Linked DNA regions of Homo sapiens: region 1 is linked to region 2. The links come from fine-mapping of genetic effects on gene expression. A gene starts in region 2. The other region holds a variant in brackets. All regions are shown on one strand. Distances are from middle to middle.

Region 1 (5,384 bases), 25 kb before region 2:
TTGAACCCGGGAAGCAGAGGTTGCAGTGAGCCGAGATTGCGCCTGGGCAATAAGAGCAAAACTCCGTCTCACAAAAAAAAAAAAAAAGAAAGAAAGAAAGAAAAGGAAAAAGAAAATAATTTAAGTGCAATAAAACTTATGTATTCCAAATTCAACAACAAATATCTTTTTATAGTGCAGGAGCCATTGACTTTAAAATAAGGAACTAGACAAGGATGGATGCCATTGCCTTTATTTTCATTATTATTTTGGAGGTTCTACACAATACAAGAAGACAAGAAAATAAAGTCATGAAGTTGAAAAAAAGCCAAATATATCATCACTTTCAGATGATGGGATTATATATAAAATCAAAGTAACATCATTCAATATTGTGATACTTAAGATAATTTGGCAAGTTGGATACAAGACAAAACTGACAGCTCTTTATCATGCTACTCATAATTAATGATTTTGATGATAATATTTTCTACTTACTATTCAACGTCTGGGGTCCATACATTTCAGTCCACAATGTGAGCAGCACTTTTCCACCAATGGGCACTCCTCATCCTGCAGGCACTTGGGTTTATCAATCTTGGTACATAGCAAGGGCTTGCGTGGGCAGAAACCTTTTTTGACTTTATGGGGTAAAAGAAAACACTTGACCTTGAAATACTTGGTCATAATTTGAGACAAATTTGAGGAATCTTGGGAATCTCAAACAAGGTTTTATTCTGATTAAGCTTCTTACCTTTCCCCCTACAGTAACAATAGACTGGAGGAGGCAGAGTATCAACTTTCTACGACTAATAACTTGAGGAGCATCAAGAAAAGTCTTACCATCTCTGACTTGTACCATCTGATAGGATTCCTGTCTGCTCCTACAGAATTAATGGATCTGGGTTATATAACCCCAGAGTACCACAGGTGGCAGGAGTATTAGCACACAGAACCTTCTTGTTTTACAAATTGTAGGCATTGAGGCGTATTTAGAGGGAAATGAGTTGCCCAATGCCACATAGAAAGCCAGTAGAAAAGTTGAAGTAGGTTGAAAAGCCTTGGACTCCTGCCACCACACTATACTGAACCTTAGAACCTTAAAGCCACACCTGGACAATCCCTGGGACTACATGGGGAAGTAAACACCTGCCTTAGAGGAGGCAGGAAAGTTGGCTTCTATCCAACATCATTTGCTACTAATGTTTTCCCCAGCCCATCTTACAGGATATGAATATGATGTGCATGCTTTGAAGTTCTGTGCAGACATGAGGGCTTATTAGGAATACACCTCATGGTTATGAATTTTTTATGAATCGGTGAATATTGTCACCTTGCAAGTCATTGAGGAATGAGTCTCAGAAAAAATAAGTTTTCTTGGGGAAGAATAGAGAGCAATGCTATGAATTACTGGCTTTGAAGAACAGCACAATAGTCTTCAGAGGTCAAGAGGTCAATATAACTTGTTGGGCATTAAAAGGGGTTCCCAAAGATCCTCAAAGATGAGCCCAAGGAGCATCTGAGGTTCAAGACACCCCCCACTCCATGGAGACAGCATGACATCCTTGGCACATGCCCAATAGATTTGGGAGGTATATCCCCAATCCTTACCTGTCCAGGCCCTGGCACAAACAAAGCCACACCTGGATTCACAACATTTGTCTGTCTGGGGACAATCGATGTCACTGTGACATGAAGGTGGACACTCCTTACGTTCAGTGAAAGGGAAGAGTGGGCATTGTCCATCCTTAACTAAAATAAGAGCAGATGTGAGCTTCTTAAAACCCCACCCCCATCCCACCACCCTTCAAAGAGCCTTTCCTTCTCTTCAAAGCTAGTATCCCTTTCTGCAACTTGGTTCACCCTACCCTATCCATCTCCAGTAGGCTGTGGAAGAATGAAATGTCTCATCATATCATGGGATATGGTAGAGAGCATGCTGGGCTTGGTGCCTTAAGCCCCATGGTAAAGTCCCAGTCCTGCTACTTGGTGAGTTTCCTTCTCTGTAAAATGAGGATAATTATGTGAAATCTACACAAATCAGTGTAAGCCATTTTAGGGTATTTGGTTTTACTTAGAATGAAATGGGGATCCATCACACTGTTCTCAGTAGAGAAGTGATATGGCCTGACTCATGTTTTGAAAGGGTCATTGTGACTATTGTGTTTATAATAGATTGTAAGGAGGATAGAAGCAGGGAGACCTTTTAAGAGGCTGTTGGGGTAATCCAAGTAAGAAGATGGCTCTTCAGATCAGGGTGGCAGCTGCGGAGGTGGTAAGGTTTTACCAGATTTAGGATCTACTTTCAAGGTAGAACTAAAATTATTTCCTAACTAACTTAATGGATGTTAATTGATAAAGAGAGGCATCAACTGTGATTGTGAAGTTTTTCAACCAAGATGAGAAGCATGGATAGAACCGGTTTGCGTTAGGGGAGTGATGGTAAGAGGTACTGGTTTATGTTTATGTTGAGCTTATTTTTCTGTTTTTGAGACAGGGTTTCCCACTGTCACTCAAC[G/A]AAGCCTCAATTTCCCCAGCTCAAGTGATCTTTGAGGAGGTGGGAATACCTCCTCAAGTGATCTTCCCAGCCTCCTGAGTAGCTGGGACCATAGGCACGTGACACCATGCCTGTTTTTTTTGTTGTTGTGTTTTTGTTTTTGTTTTTGGTTTTGTTGTTGTTGTTTGTAGAAATTGGGTCTCACTATGCTGCCTAGGCTGGTCTCAAACTCCTGGGCTCAAGTGATCCTCTTGCCTCAGCCTCCCAAAGCGCTAGGATTATAGGTGTGAGCTACTGTGCCTGGCCCGAGGTTCTGTTTAAGCAAGTTCAACATGAGATGTTTGTGAGGTCCAGGTGGAGATGTAGAGCAGATAGTGGATTTTAGGAGTCAGATTAGGGCTGGAGACACAACTTTGTGGGTCATTAGGACATAGGTGGTATTTAAATCAATTCTTTGGGGTTTTGTATGCTCTTGTACTCATCTGACTGCAAATTCTACAAGGGCTTCCCCAGGTCAGGCTCAGGCTATGATGTGTTGAACTCTCAGAGGTATTATCAGGTTGCCTCTGAGTCTTAACCTAAATTTCCCACAAACCAGCCCAAGCCCATTTCCCTGGCCTCCTCTTCCTTGTCTTCCTGGGAGAGGAGACAAGGCTCTTGTCCACAGCACCATGATTCCTTAGAGCTTCCCATGAAGGGAAGCTTGTGGTCCTAGTTTCAAGTCAGGTCCCAGGGTTGCCTTGGCCGTTCAGGCCCATGGGTCCATGGAATTAAAATTCCACCTCTACTCCTGACCAACTGTGGGTCCTCAGGCAACTAACTTCACCTCTCTGACTGTGTTCTCCCATCTGTAAAGTGGTAGTGATGGTACATTTTTCAGCTTGCCTCACAGAATCTGAGGTCGAAATTGCAACGCTGCCTCATAAATCACACAGTTGTGAAGATCACTGGTCACCATCTCAATTGTTACCGTTTAGTGAGCCCACACCACGGGACCACCACTCTATCAAGTCTTTGTGTTTTAAATCACATATAATCCTGCCAACAACTCAACGAGCTGTTTGCTGTGACTCCAGAATTACAGAAGAGGGAACTGAAATTCAAAGAAATGAAGAAAGCAGCAAGTGGGAAAAGTCAGATTTAAATTCAGGTCATTTGACTCCTAAGTTTGGTAGGACACTGTTTCCCAACATTGCTGGTGATGATCATTATACTAAGGAATGAATCCACAGCCTTCACCTTCACCCCACCCTACTCTCCACCTCCAGTGTGGACACTTACTCCATGGGATTCCAGAGCTGGCCTGTCTACACTTCATTCTTAAGCAAATCCTCAGTATGATGCTCAACAGGTTACTATGATGAGGAAACACCTTCTTCCAAGGGGGCACACCTGGCTTTCGGGTCACATTGGCCAAGATCTATTAACATTTTCTATACACTATCTCATTTTTTGGCAGAGCCACTCCATTAGGTAAATACTATTATTAACCTCATTCTATAGACAAGGAAACTGAAGCTTATAAAGGCAGGCAACTGGCCCAAGACCTCCCAGCCAGTGAATGACAGAGCTAAGTCTTGAACCAAGGAACTTTAACCTCAAATCCTGAGCCTATAACCTCATTGGTATACTATTTCTAGTTAAACTAGACCCTCAGATTTCCAGGATAGAGGTCTCACCAATTAACATGCAGGCCGTTCTGCAGGCATCCTCATTTAAGAAGTTGTTGGCATTCCCTTCGCAGCCCCTGTATTTGAAGGGTGTGCAGCGGTAATTTTTAAAGTCAAAATGCCAGCGCTGTGCCTCATGATTACAGTTTCCATGCCTCACAGGTAGCATGCAGGGTTCTGAGGTCAGGAAGCAAGGAAAGAAGGATATGAAGAGTAGAGATAAAAGAACAGGGTCAGTTCCCTAGCATTTCTCATAACTCCTGGTGTTATCACCCAAGTCATAAAAGGAGCCATGGCAGGGGAAAAAAAAAGGCATAGGTTCTGGTCCCAGTTCTACTACTAATAGTCTATGTTGTATGGCACCTCTGAGCATCACTCCTTCCTTGCAAAGAATATTACAAGGTGCATATAAGAATCTTGTACTTTGGAGCTGATCTTTCTTCTCCACTGTCCTGAGCTTTGGTAGGGCAAGACTTGTTCAGCAACTATTAGGTTGATGCAAAAGTAATTATGGTTTTTGCATTGTTAAAATTTGCCATTTGATATTAGAATACATTCTTAAATAAATGTGGTTATATCATATATCATTTTAATGCACATTTCTTGCTTCCTGTACTTTTGCTAATGACTTATTATTTGCTGTTTAATTTATATTTATTTTAGACTATATAAATTATGTCAGACAAAAAGCAAATTCGAGTGATTTTCTCATTTGAGTTGAAAATGGGTCGTAAAGCAGCAGAGACAACTTGCAACATCAACAACACATTTAGCCCGGGAACTGCTAAGAAATATACAGTGCAGTGGTGGTTCAAGAAGTTTTGCAAAGGAGACGAGGGCTTTGAAGATGAGGAGCATTGTGGCTGGTCATTGGAAGTTGACAATGACCAACTGAGAGCAGTCATCAAAGTTGATCCTCTTATAACTACATAAGAAGTTGCCGAAGAGCTCAACGTCAACCATTCTATGGTCATCCAGCATTTGAAGCAAATTGGAAAGGTGAAAAAGCTCGATAGGTGGGTGCCTCATGAACTGAGCAAAATTAAAAAAATATATATTGTTTTGAAGGGTCATCTCTTATTCTGTGCAACAACAACAAACTATTTCTCAATCATATTGTGACGTGCAATGAAAAGTGGATTTTACACGACAACCAATGATGACCAGCTTAGTGGCTGGACCAAGAAGAAGCTCAAAAACACTTCCCAAAGCCAAACTTGCACCAAAAAAGGTCATGG
Region 2 (5,384 bases):
CTACTTATGTTTTAAGTTTATCCTTCAAATCGTGTAAATCTACATTGTAAAAATCCAGTCCAGAAATTATTACCTATTAATTGACATTTATGGGCACTAATGACATATTTGGATTCATTTCTACAATTTTATTACAAGTTATCTACTCTCAGTCCTCATTATTCAGATTCTGTACTTGCCAATTTGCCTACTTGCTGAAATTTATTTATTACCCAAAAATCAATACTCATGATGCTTTTGTGGTCATTCAGGGATATGTGCAGAATGGCAAAAAATTTGAGTCCCCCAACGTACACATTCCCAGCTGAAGTCAAACAAGGCAACGCTCTGCTTGTTTAAGCTCTTCTACTACTATAAACAAGCTTCCTTTTTGCAGTCTACTTAGTGTCACATTTTTCACATTTTTGTGCTTTTTGTTGGTGAGTTTGCTGTTTAAAATGGCTGCCAAGAATTACTAAAGTGCTGTCAAGTGTCCTAAGAGCAAGAGGCCTGCAATGTGCCTTACAAAGAAATTACTTGTGTCAGATAAGCTTGGTTCAGGCATGAGTTACAGGGCTTTCAGCCACAATTCAATGTTAATGAAACAATAATATATATTACATAAGGTGTCTTTTTTTTTTTTTGAGATGGAGTCTCACTCTGTCGCCAGGCTAGAGTACAGTAGTGCGATCTCGGCTCGCTGCAACCTCCGCCTTCTGGGTTCAAGTGATTCTCCTGCCTCAGACTCCCGAGTAGCTGGGATTACAGGCACCCACCACCACGTCCTGCTAATTTTTTGTATTTTTAGTAGAGATGAGGTTTCACTGTGTTGGCCAGGATGGTCTCAATCTCCTGACCTAGTGATCCGCCTGCCTCAGCCTCCCAAAGTGCTGGGATTACAGGCATGAGCCACCGCGCCTGGCCTATATACATGTTTAAAAAATAAAGACAGGGCCAGCACGGTGGCTCATGCCTGTAATCCCAGCACTTTGGGAGGCTGAGGCAGGCAGATCACCTGTGGTCAGGAGTTCAAGACTAGCCTGGCCAACACGGTGAAACCCTGTCTCTACTAAAAATACAAAAATTAGCCTGGAGTGGTGGTGCACACCTGTAGTCCCAGCTACTCAGGAGGCTAAGGCAGGAGGATCCCTTGAACCCAGAAGGTGGAGGTTGCAGAGAGCCGAGATCACACCACTATGCTCCAGCCTGGGGGACAGAGAGAGATTCCCTCTCAAACAAAACAAAAAAAATAAAAATAAAAATAAATAAATAAATAAAGTATGTAGAGTTTTATTTAATAATTAACCACACAGATTAAAAAATAGAAAGTAGCCAGCTTCCCAGAAGTCTTCTGTGTGCACCTTCTAATTACCATCTCTGTCATGTGTCTTCAGACAGAAGCACATATAAAAACAAGGTTATGTATTGATCAAATGATGAAAATGTGTGGTCAGAGGCTTGCATTTTCCCTAGGAGCAATGGCTCAGTATTTGCTAATCCGGTGTTCACAGTGACTTTACAGAACATAACTACCCCCAAGTAATGGGAATCAACTGTATTTTTATTACTTTGGTGTACAAAGAACTTTGAGCTCTCCATGGCTTGCCACAACAAAAGACTTCCTAGGCAAATTGTCTACTGCTTTGTTCCAAGTGGGGGCTCTACTTGAGGCTGTGGGACCAAGACAAAAGAAGCAGCCTCTATGTGGATTAGGCCCCTTCTCCTGGCAGAGAGAAAGCACAAAGGAGCTGGCAGAAACTCACAGTGCAAAACTCACTATGCATATGCTACATCTGCTCATACTCCAATAGGCAAAGCACAGCTGACAGCAAACCCAAAGTCAATGAGACAGAAATGTGTCTTCCTTCCACGGGCCGTTCTAAAATTGCAAGGTAATGGACAGGAGTGTCCTCTTAAAGGAAAGATGGAATGAATAGTTGTGAATAATAATATAACCCATCACTACTACTCCTGTTTTAATTTTTTGAAAATGTTTAGATACATATTATATGCTTGTTTAATTTAAAATATCAAACTTTACCTTGCTCAGGCTCTGCCCCTCCACACTGGGCCACTCAAAGATGCCCAACTTACCCTACTTGGGCTCCAACAGCCATATCAGGTTGCATTCGAGACCAGCCTGGCCAACATGGTGAAACCCCGTCTCTACTAAAAATGCAAAACTTAGCCGAGCGTGGTGGCGCACACCTGTAGTCCCAGCTACTAGGGAGGCTAAGGCAGGAGAATCGCTGGATGCATTGATGCCCTCTTCACCCTGCTTAGGCTCTGATTCCTGACACAAGACAGCTCTGTTCTGTGGAACCCCTCCTCACTATGCTTGGCCCAACTCCCCACAGCCGACCACTCTAACTTCTATGTATCCTCCTCATCTCCTTGGGCTCAGACCCTCCATGTCTGGCTACCCACCCCCATAGACACCCTCCTCACCCTCCTTCAGTTCGGACAGTCCACATCAGGCCTCTTCCCTATGGAGACAGCTTCCTCACTTTGCTCCAGCTCTAAGGCTCCTCCCTCATCTGCTCCCCTGCCTGGACACTCTGCTCACCCCACTCAGGCTCTCATTCTATGCCAGTCTGCCCCTCTAGCCCCAGGGGGATGCCTTTCTCAACATGGGCAGGCTGGTCTCCATGCTATGCTGCTTCTTGCCTCTTCACTGGGCATTCTCATCTACCCCTGGCTCCAGCACACCAGGCCAGCAGCCCTCCTACAGAGACACCCTCCTTGACCTGTTCCAGCTCTGATGCCCACACGGAGCCAGCCGTGGCTCCCTTCCCCTTGGGGCAAACGCCTACCTTGCTAAATGTGCCTATCTAATGGCTTTAGGACTGACTAGTTCAGTTAGTAAAGAAAAGGAGACAAAACAAGGAAGAGCTACTTTTCCTTTTTGTAAAAATATGTATTGTGAAAAACACCACAAAAATAAAAATATGCATGAAACATTAATGTTCAGTCTAACGAACTATTACGAAGTGACCACTCATTAAACTATCACTGAAATCAAGTAAAAAATTTCCAACACTTTCTGCTCCTTTTTCATTCTTTTCCAGTCACAACCCCTTCCTATGCTCTCAAAGGCAGCTAATGGTAGTGACTTTCTTTTTCATATTTTCAAGATCATATGTATTCCCCTAAATATGTTTTTGTTTTTGTCTGCTTCTGTTCTATATCAATGGAGTCACTTGGAATGTATTCTTTTGTGCCTGGCTTTTTGTGTTCAACATTATATTAATGAATTCCATCCACATTGTTTTGTGTAGCTGTATTTTGTCAATTTTCATTGCCATGCCATCTATTGTATGACTACACACATCTCTACTGAGTTGTTTATAGTTTGCAGCTGTTAAGAATAAAGCTGCTGTGTGTATACATAGCATGTATGTAATAACGTTCTGCACGTGTATCCCAGAACTTAAAGTATAATAAAAAACTAGGATTTTCTAAATAAAAATGTTATTTATATCAACATGTAATAAGTTTATTACGTTAAATGAATTAATAAATGTTTTTAAATGTCAAAAAAATTTTAAACAATTTACTCATGTAAAAAAAAGAATAAAGCTGCTATGAACACTCTGTGTGCATTTGCTGGAGCACGTGGGCAGGTGTTCTTGTAGGTTATACATTCAGCATAGGGAATGATGGGTTACAGGGTATGCATATCTTCAGCTTCTCAAGCTGATACCAAATTATTTCCCAAAGAGTTTGTACCAATTCACAGCCTTGCCATTGGTAGTTGAGAGTTCCTATTGTTCCATAACCATGCTGTATGTAGAACTGTCACAATCTTTTCATTTTTACCATCCTGCTACGAGTATGGAAATACATCACTGTGGACTTAATTTAAATTTCTTGACTACTAATGAGGTTGAGCACCTTTTTAGATCTTTATTAACCACTTGGCTATCCTCTCTTTGATTTTCTTTTCAAATGTTTTGCTCATTGTTCTCTGGGGTTTTCTGACTTTTTCTTGCTGATTTCTACTGGAGTCATGTCTTTCCTCAGTTATATGTATTATGAACATCTTCCAGGATCAAGGGTAATCTTCTAAAACCCTTATTGGCTTGTCTTTTACCTTTTGAATGAAAGTTTTTATCACGTGCCCTTCCTACCCCAAAGACAGAATCAGGAATCCTTTTTCTATGTTCCTTTCCTACAATACAATAACTCGCTACAATACAATACAGTAACTCCAATATCTGAAGTCTTTGTGGACCTCTGCTGTTGGTTGTTTTTCTTGATTTTTTTCATCTTGTTTTCTTAAGATCTGTGTGATTTTTTTTATTGTGAGAGTACATATTTAATGGAAGTTTATGTATGTAACAATACTTTGTGGAATTTCTTGGATTCCTGTGTTTAAAGGAGAATTCTTCCGAATCAACTTGTCCTCAATTTTTCCCTAACAACTCATGCAATTTTGAATTAAATTCATAGCTTTAGATTTATCAGACCATGCACATGTGCCAATTTTCCTACTCTGCTCTTATGAAAGGAAACAAGGTTGCAGTTACAAATTCTCAGAATAGTCTTTTTTTTTTTTTTTGAGATGGAGTCTCGCTCTGTTCCCCAGGCTGGAGTGCAGTGGCACTATCTCAACTCACTGCAACCTCCTTCTCCCGGGTTCAAGTGATTCTCCTGCCTCAGCCTCCTGAATAGCTGGGATTACAGACACGCACCACCACGCCTGGCTAATTTTTTTGTATTTTTAGTAGAGATGGGGTTTCACCATGTTGGTCAGGCCGGTCTCGAACTCCTGGCCTCGTGATCCACCCACCTCTGCCTCCCAAAGTGCTGGGATTACAGGCATGACCCACTGCACCCAGCCCAGAGTAGTCTTTTTTCCTGTTTTGTTCAGAGCCAAAGCCAAGACAGGCAAGTTCCTTCACCACAGTTGTGCATGTGTGTGTTTCTGTTTCATCCATTTATTTCTGTTTCATCCATTTATTAAGGTGTCAGCATTTGGTGATCCTTGTGAGTGAGATTTCTGATCTGACTTTTCACATTGCTTAGGGCTTAGCTCTTTTTTCTTGCCCTTGCCAGGGGCCCACTAAAATTCAAACTGCAGATTACCAGGCATTGGCAGATACTCCCAGGGAAGCCTCTAACTAAAGCACTTCCTTATCTCTCTGGAGTCAGACCTTCACATCATTTTTGGCTTTTAAGAATTCCTCTTTCTTGCCAACTGACTCATTGATTTAAAGAGTCATGCATTTTAAGTATTTTAGACAATATTTTGGGGGGGTGATTTACTGGGAATAGTTTCTAAGAGTCCTAGTTATGAATTTTTAATTATAAAATTACACACATCAAATACCCAATAAGTGAAACAGTACAAAGAACATATAAAGAAAAGGTAATAATTTCTAAGCCACATCTCTCCATTTCTA

Alleles and levels. Positions count from the first base shown, and alleles are read on the strand shown. Sizes are in standard deviations (SD) of each study's normalised expression.
For the expression in thyroid of the gene that starts at base 2,490 in region 2, G is the high allele of the variant in region 1 and A is the other (moderate effect, 0.49 SD a copy in GTEx).

Evidence for each region. PIP is the estimated chance that this variant, and not a neighbour inherited with it, causes the effect. A credible set is the group of variants that fine-mapping cannot tell apart.
Region 1: its variant is the best candidate, but not a certain one, in a credible set for the expression of WFDC8 in thyroid (GTEx, PIP 0.53).

What each region holds. Positions count from the first base shown.
Region 1 is chr20:45,551,546-45,556,929 of GRCh38, forward strand. WFDC8 (WAP four-disulfide core domain 8) reads right to left here. Exons shown (of 6, transcript NM_130896.3): 4 at 4,156-4,323; 5 at 1,591-1,731; 6 at 217-620. The coding sequence ends at 481. Among named protein-coding and RNA genes, the nearest start is that of EPPIN-WFDC6, 6.8 kb to the left of the region's middle. The variant G/A (reference allele first, on the strand shown) is at 2,498.
Region 2 is chr20:45,576,795-45,582,178 of GRCh38, forward strand. It overlaps WFDC8 (WAP four-disulfide core domain 8), which reads right to left and starts at 2,490. Exons shown (of 6, transcript NM_130896.3): 1 at 2,428-2,490. The coding sequence starts at 2,453. RefSeq lists an enhancer at 1,305-2,240.